2 linked regions of the Homo sapiens genome follow. The protein of the gene in region 1 interacts with the protein of each later gene in a biochemical or structural test. Each region holds a gene or a part of one and is shown on either strand. Other genes may lie near its edges.

Evidence for each region. Proteins that work in one complex are often made in the same cells at the same time.
Region 2: of the proteins of CASR (region 1) and PRKCB, one has a biochemical effect on the other in vitro, tested with the Homo sapiens proteins (one study listed by BioGRID).

What each region holds. Positions count from the first base shown.
Region 1 is NC_000003.12:122,277,522-122,281,174, forward strand, and holds part of CASR (extracellular calcium-sensing receptor isoform 2 precursor), read left to right. Parts: intron 1-3,653. UniProt on the Homo sapiens protein: G-protein-coupled receptor that senses changes in the extracellular concentration of calcium ions and plays a key role in maintaining calcium homeostasis.
Region 2 is NC_000016.10:24,216,908-24,220,660, forward strand, and holds the end of PRKCB (protein kinase C beta type), read left to right. Parts: 3' UTR 1-3,053; coding exon of another isoform or gene 3,054-3,206; 3' UTR 3,207-3,704; downstream 3,705-3,753. UniProt on the Homo sapiens protein: Calcium-activated, phospholipid- and diacylglycerol (DAG)-dependent serine/threonine-protein kinase involved in various cellular processes such as regulation of the B-cell receptor (BCR) signalosome, oxidative stress-induced apoptosis, androgen receptor-dependent transcription regulation, insulin signaling and endothelial cells proliferation.

The DNA of each region.
Region 1 (3,653 bases):
TTTTAATAGCTTACACCCCAGAGGGTGGGTTCTTAATTATAAATATGTCATGACTTTTCCAGATGGAGATTTGGGGGTTCCAGATGTTATATTCCTCTGTCCACTAATTATACCTTTGTCTAATTTATCACGTATTTTCACTGACTGGAGTCTAAATTGATCAGCTATACTGCCACCTGTTTACCCCTGTTGGATCATCCAGTTTATCTTTCACCCCCATTAATGCATAGAATTGAATTCTCTAATGGCACATGTCTCTCCACTGCAGCAGGGAGCTATCTCCTGTACAGTTCTCCATAGCCCTAACTGTCCTCTCCCAGGCTATGTACATCATGGGCTTAAACATTGATAGATGAATAACACAGGGAATTCTCATTAATTCAGTCACTTATGTTCTTGGAATAGTTGACACAGTTATAAGTTAAATCTAATTTTTTTCCATAGAAATATTACCTCAAACGTAGCACACAATGGATACTCAACAAATCTTAGGATCTACTCTATTATTTTCTGTGCTGTTGTGGAAATGACCACAAAAATACCACCTATATTTAACTATAAATTATATATTAGTAACTTCCCTATGTATTTCACAAAGTTGTTATTGAGATCAAATGAGATCAAGGATGAAAAGCGTATGATAAACTGAATCATACTACTAATATATAAATGCAAAGTATTAATATGGCATTATACTTAACTGATGTTCTCAATTTTCTTACAAATGTAGCACTAAATTTAGAGCTAGATAGATCTTTAAAGATCCTTGTATCCAAGCTTCCAATTTGAAGTTGATGACACTGAGGTTTTAGGATGCAAAGGTGACTTCTCAGGCCAAACAGATGGTCAGTATAAAAGCTGAGACTAGACCCCAAGGGCCCTAACTTAGACCTCAGTGCTCCATTCCCTACACTGTGCTGCCAATAATTCTTTCCTTGTTTTGCTACAACAAATAAGAAGTAAAAGAGACACCTTAATTAGGGTCTTGGAATTCAGATGAGCTTCCTTGGCCAGAATTGGACAGGCATCTTTAATAAGACTGTTGAGGAGGCTTGGAGATACTTGACTGCTTTTTGGAAAAATGGATCTTTCCGGTGGCTACCTCAGCCCACTCCTGTGGTGATAGGATTTCTCTTTAGCTCATGGTTGCTGAAGGATGCAGTAAGCAGACCCAGATGGAGACATTCTTCTAAGCCTTGACTGGTATAAAGCAGAGTTTGGTGTAGTGAAAAGTACAGACTTTGAAGACTGACCTGAGCGCGAATCTCAGCTCTCCAGTCAAGCCATTGTGTGACCTTCAGCCTGTTCCTTAACCATTAAGAAGAAGAGAAAAAGAGGCAAGGCAGACATTCCTATAGGCCCTCGTTATTTATACTCCTCTTTTTCTTTAAAAATAGAACTCTATTTTAGCTAGACACATGACTACCCAGATTCAAGATGACATTTTTCAGCCTTCATTTCTACTAAGTGCGTCCCCATGACTAAATCCTAGAGAATGGGATGTAAGTGGCAGTGTTGTGGGATGGCTTCTGGGAACCTTCTTTAAGAAAGTGCTTGCAAGTATCCTTTGCTCTCTTCTTCATCCCTTCCTCTATCTTGCCTCCTGGAAACCAAATGCCACTATCAAGGACTATGAGGCAAAGACAAACATGTCAGAACCACCAGGTAGAAAGAGTCTAGGTGTCCAACATTATGGAGTGCTATATCACTCTAGACCACATCCCTAGACATTTATATGAGAGAGAAATACAGTTCAGTCTTGTTGGGAGTTATTATTTTGAGATTTTTGGCACTCACAGCCTAGCAGAAACCAAGAAGGAAAGCTACTAAATTTATTTTGTGATGATAATATAATCTTGATACCAAAAACAGATAGAACAATACAAGCAAAGACAATTATAGGACAATATTGTTTGTATACGTAGATGCTCAAATCCTAAATAAAATATCACCAAACAGACCAGCAATGTATAAAATAAACATCATCTGCTAGTAGAGTTAGTGGTGAATGTACAGGAACGTAATGATAGCCAAACTTTACAAAGTTCATAAATGTAGCTTATTACATTAGCAGAATAAAAGATAAAAGTTCTGCAATGTCAGTAGACACAGAAAAAGTATCTATTAACATTTAACACCTCTCAGGTTAAAAACAAAAATTTTTAACCTCTCAGGTTTTAACCTCTCAGGTTAAAAACAAAAATTTCATTAATCTAGGAATAGAAGGGAACCTCACTTTACCTTGATAAAGGATACAGCAACCATCATTCTTTTTTCATTGTATTTCTTTTAAGTTCTGGGGTACATGTGCAGGATGTGCAGGTTTATTACATAGGTAAATGTGTGCCATGGTAGTTTGCTGCACCTGTCAACCCATCACCTGGGTATTAAACCCAGCATGCACTAGCTCTTTTCCCTAATGCTCTCCACCCCACTACCCTTTCCCAACAGGCCCCAGTGTTGTTCTCCACCCTGTGTCCATGTGTTCCCATTGTTCAGCTCCCACTTATAAGTGGGAACATGGGGTGTTTGGTTTTCTGTTCCTGCAAAACGTAATTCATCACATAAACAGAACTAAAAACAAAAACCACATGACTATCTCAATAGACACAGAAAAGGCCTTCGATAAAATTCAACATCCCTTCATGTTAAAAACTCTAAATAAACTAGGTGTTGAAGGAACATACCTCGAAATAATAAAAGCCATTTATGACAAACCCACAGCCAATATCATACTGAAAAGGCAAAAGCTGGACGCATTCCCCTTGAAAACTGGCACAAGGATGCCCGCTCTCACCACTCTTATTCAACATAATATTGGAAGTTCTGGCCAGGGCAATCAGGCAAGAGAAAGAAATAAAGGGTATTCAAATAGGAAGAGAGGAAGCAACCATCATTCTTTAATGGGGAAAATTTAGAAGCATTCCTAGTGTGGGTTTGGAAAACAGGGCCTTTAGCTTTCATTGAGTGATCAAATGGGTTGGCAACTCAAGGACTGAGAGCACATCTCTGAGGATACCTTGTCACCATAGTTGAAGATGATGATGTGAGTTGTCCTTTTCCCTCCCCTCCCCTTCCCTTCCCTGGGTCATGAGAGTCTTGGCAATCATCAGGTCCATTACTGCCTTTCCATTCCTCATTCATTAGAAGATAATGTCAATCATCTTCTGTTCAAGTTTTTTTTAACTCCTTTGTCAAGCCAGTCATTTCTGCTAGAAACAACGACAGCTACTTTACTGCTTTCTGTGTTTGTAAGACATCTTACAAAGTAGTAGGTAGAGGGGAGACCCATTAAATAGACATTATGGAAATAGTAAAAGCCCTACTATGTATTAAGCATTACTCCAGGCTTTGTACCTGGGGTTACAAAGATGAGTGAGAAGTGCTCTCTACCTCTAAGATACATATGCTGTTGCAAAACGGACTTCATTCTTATGATACATTTCTTGTCTTTGAAACATATACATTGTTAGATAGTAAATGACTAATAAATTCCTAGAATGAATAATCAATTAGCTGGTGCAAAGAATGAGATAGAAGCAGGACTTCTTGAAATGGTGAAGCAATGATAAAATTGAACAAAACTGGACAAAAACCACTGAAGAACCTGGAAGTTAACCAGAAGCACACAACAAAAGGTGAAGGGTTTTGTT
Region 2 (3,753 bases), on another chromosome or scaffold:
GTAGCAAGGCAGCAGACATCTCTGAGCCAGGCCCACCAACAGGCCCTTATCTGGTGGTTGGATCATGATCCCATTTTGCTTGGACATGCTCTCAGGAAGATAAAAACCATGGAGAAACACTAGGCCATTGACAAATGATCTGAGACAACTTTAGAAAACAATGTAGGATGAATGGAAAGAGAAAGAAAGGAAAGAAAGAAGAAAAAGAAAGAAGGAAAGAAAGAAAGAGAAAGGAAGGAAGGAAAGAAGGAAGGAAAAGAAGGAAGGAAGGAAGGAATATAGTGTTATAAATACTGCACTCAACATTTTCCAAATTCTTGCCATTATTTTTCAAAAGTTTAATAGTTTGCAGAAATAGATACTCAAGCCAAAGTCTGTTTTAGAGAAACTTTCCATGGAAAGTCAGAATTTCTACCACTTCCTTTTCTATCCACATTTCCAGTGCAGAAGAAACTGAGAAACAGAGCTTTTTGAAGAGAGGACAGGGCCATAGCAACAAGGACCTTCTTGGGGGATTAATGGGAGGTCAGTAGAATTAATAACCCTCCTTGGATGAGTGCTACTGTTTTCACATGGCTTCAGATGCTATCAACCTCAAAGAAATGATCTCAACAGAGAAGCTTATTCTCTCCCAACTTCTACGGTAAAATCCAGGAGTATTTTCTCTGGGGATCTGCCCACAGGACAAAGTCCATAAAAGCAAGTCCTGTCTGGACCATGTGGTTATCTGAAGCATTAGCCATCACCAGCACAACAAACGGGGCAGGGCTTTCCAAGGTGGGGCTGGTCAGAAGGGAATCTTTGATAAGAGGCCCACAGGCAGGGAAAGCGAAATAGGGTTGATGAGACCAGGGGAGACCTAAAAAAAAGGCAGCTTTGTGTCTTCTAGCTCCAAATATACCTGCCTTTTAGCTCACACACTGTCCTGGAGTTCTCAGACCTTTAGGGGCCCTAACACAGTTCAGTTCATACAGGGGTTCAAAAGGGACAGTGGCCCATTTGGGAGACCTTTAGGATCAATGGGAATCAATTCCATTGTTTTGCCTCAGAGTAAAGTTTCTGGCTCGGGGACAATTATAAGTTGCAAAAAGGATAGAGGCATATCCCAAGTCTTCCTTCATTCCACAAATAATTACAAACAACCTACTGTGTGCCAGGCACTATTCTTAGCACTGGAAATACACTAGTGAAGAAGCAGATGAGGACCCTGTTTATTGTTTCTCTCCAAGAAATTCTCCAAGAATATTGTTTCTTGGAGAGAAATAATAAATAAACAAGACAATTTCTGAAAGCAATAAGTGCAATCAAGATAATTAAAGGATGCTAAAGTGTGACTTGTGGGGATTGGGAGAGAGATGCACAGACAATATTAAAGAGGAGGCATTCGAGCTTTGTTGTGAACACCGGAAGTAACATGCCGAGCGCCTGGGGGATGGAAACTCCTATAGCACCCCACAGGCTAACAGCAAGCAGGACAAGACAAAAAGGGCAGGTGGGACATGGTAGAGATGGACCCTACCCAGGAAACAGCTCCATCAGCATCTTAGCCTGCCCCACTCTAGCCACACATACCCACGTGTGCTCCTGAGTTCAGTGTGCCCACCTCACTCCCACACCCTCACATAGACTTGGCAAGAGTAAGGAGGGAACTCCATAGAGACATTTTACCTATCTCAGGGGAGCAGCCACAAAGAAGCAAGTCTTGTAAAAGGTCTTTTGCAAAGGAGAGTGAACCCAGCAATGAGAGATCCTTAACAGCTAGTGCCCATTAGGGGGCTAAACCTAAAGCCTGGGTGGTGATGGCTCAAACGCTAATGAGTCAGTGAATCCTTACCGACCCCCTGGCCTTTATAATCTGAGGCAACTTTGGCTGCAGCCCGGGAATGTGCAGGGCACTAGGGAATACAAGGCCTTCTTCCCTGGTTGTCTTGTAATAAAACAGCCATGGGGTTGTCCCTCCAGTCCGAGAGACTGTGATGAGGCCTACATAGCAGCGATGTGGTCAGGTAAAAATCAGGAACCCACTGAAATCTTGGGCAAGCCACCCTGCCTGCTTGTGCCTCGGTTCTCTCATATGTCATATATAGGAGGTGAGGACTCCAGCTCCACCTGCCCCAGGTGGGTGTGGTGATGATGAGGAAAGACAAGAGGCTTGCAAGGACCCTGAAGAGGTCGGAGCATCATACAGATTCCTTTATTAGCCCACATTCTGATGTTCCCTGGTGAGACTTGCCCCAAGCAATTGCTAGTAAATGGGGGTTAATTTCTTCTCCACCTCCCTACTGAACAAAAAAAGAAATGCCAGACTTACTAGGAGAATCGAGTTGCTTTGAGTTTCTTTTGTTTTGTTTTGTTTTGTTTTGTTTTAAGGCTCCCCTTACACACCCTCCTTTAAGCTTTGGGTTTTCTCTCTTATAGTTTGTTGACACATGCTAAAAATGTCTTTGGAGAGAACTTCTGCCTGATAAACACCCAATTCTAGACTGTGGGTGGATTTTCGAGCTGACGGTGGTCAATTCCTTTCATTAAGCAGTGATCTGATTTCTCCACATGGCCATTCTGCCTTCTTGGGGGCAGAGTAGATGGGCAGCAGTTCACCTTTTCAGAGAAAGAGGTCTTCTAGCCACCTGGGCTGCTACTGAATGGTTTTCTCCAGGACGCTCTACCTAATGATTATTTCTATAACATTAAGCATGGTAATAAGTAGCTTCCAATTCAATTCATCCTAAAGCCAAAGAAAATACAGCAACACACACACACACACACACACACACACACACACACACACACACACACCACTTTATGGCAATTCTTAACTGACATTCAATGACTTACTTCTTTTCTTAGAAAATTTCCACCACATTTCTATCCCCAAGCCAACATACAATGTGAAATGAAAGCCAGTGCGTGGAGTGCAGCTGCTAAAAATTTTCAGCACAGGGCTCTTTCTGACTCTGCTCATGAGATGGTATCAGCCACCCAATGACTGGCGTATCTTGGTCCTGTGTCTTTCTTCTTACGCTGTGTTAATGTGTTTACTTTCCATTTGGCAGAGAGACAAGAGAGACACCTCCAACTTCGACAAAGAGTTCACCAGACAGCCTGTGGAACTGACCCCCACTGATAAACTCTTCATCATGAACTTGGACCAAAATGAATTTGCTGGCTTCTCTTATACTAACCCAGAGTTTGTCATTAATGTGTAGGTGAATGCAAACTCCATCGTTGAGCCTGGGGTGTAAGACTTCAAGCCAAGCGTATGTATCAATTCTAGTCTTCCAGGATTCACGGTGCACATGCTGGCATTCAACATGTGGAAAGCTTGTCTTAGAGGGCTTTTCTTTGTATGTGTAGCTTGCTAGTTTGTTTTCTACATTTGAAAATGTTTAGTTTAGAATAAGCGCATTATCCAATTATAGAGGTACAATTTTCCAAACTTCCAGAAACTCATCAAATGAACAGACAATGTCAAAACTACTGTGTCTGATACCAAAATGCTTCAGTATTTGTAATTTTTCAAGTCAGAAGCTGATGTTCCTGGTAAAAGTTTTTACAGTTATTCTATAATATCTTCTTTGAATGCTAAGCATGAGCGATATTTTTAAAAATTGTGAGTAAGCTTTGCAGTTACTGTGAACTATTGTCTCTTGGAGGAAGTTTTTTGTTTAAGAATTGATATGATTAAACTGAATTAATATATGCAAGCTCTTGTTTATATGTCTTTTCTTAAATAGACTATGTTACAGAGGTTAC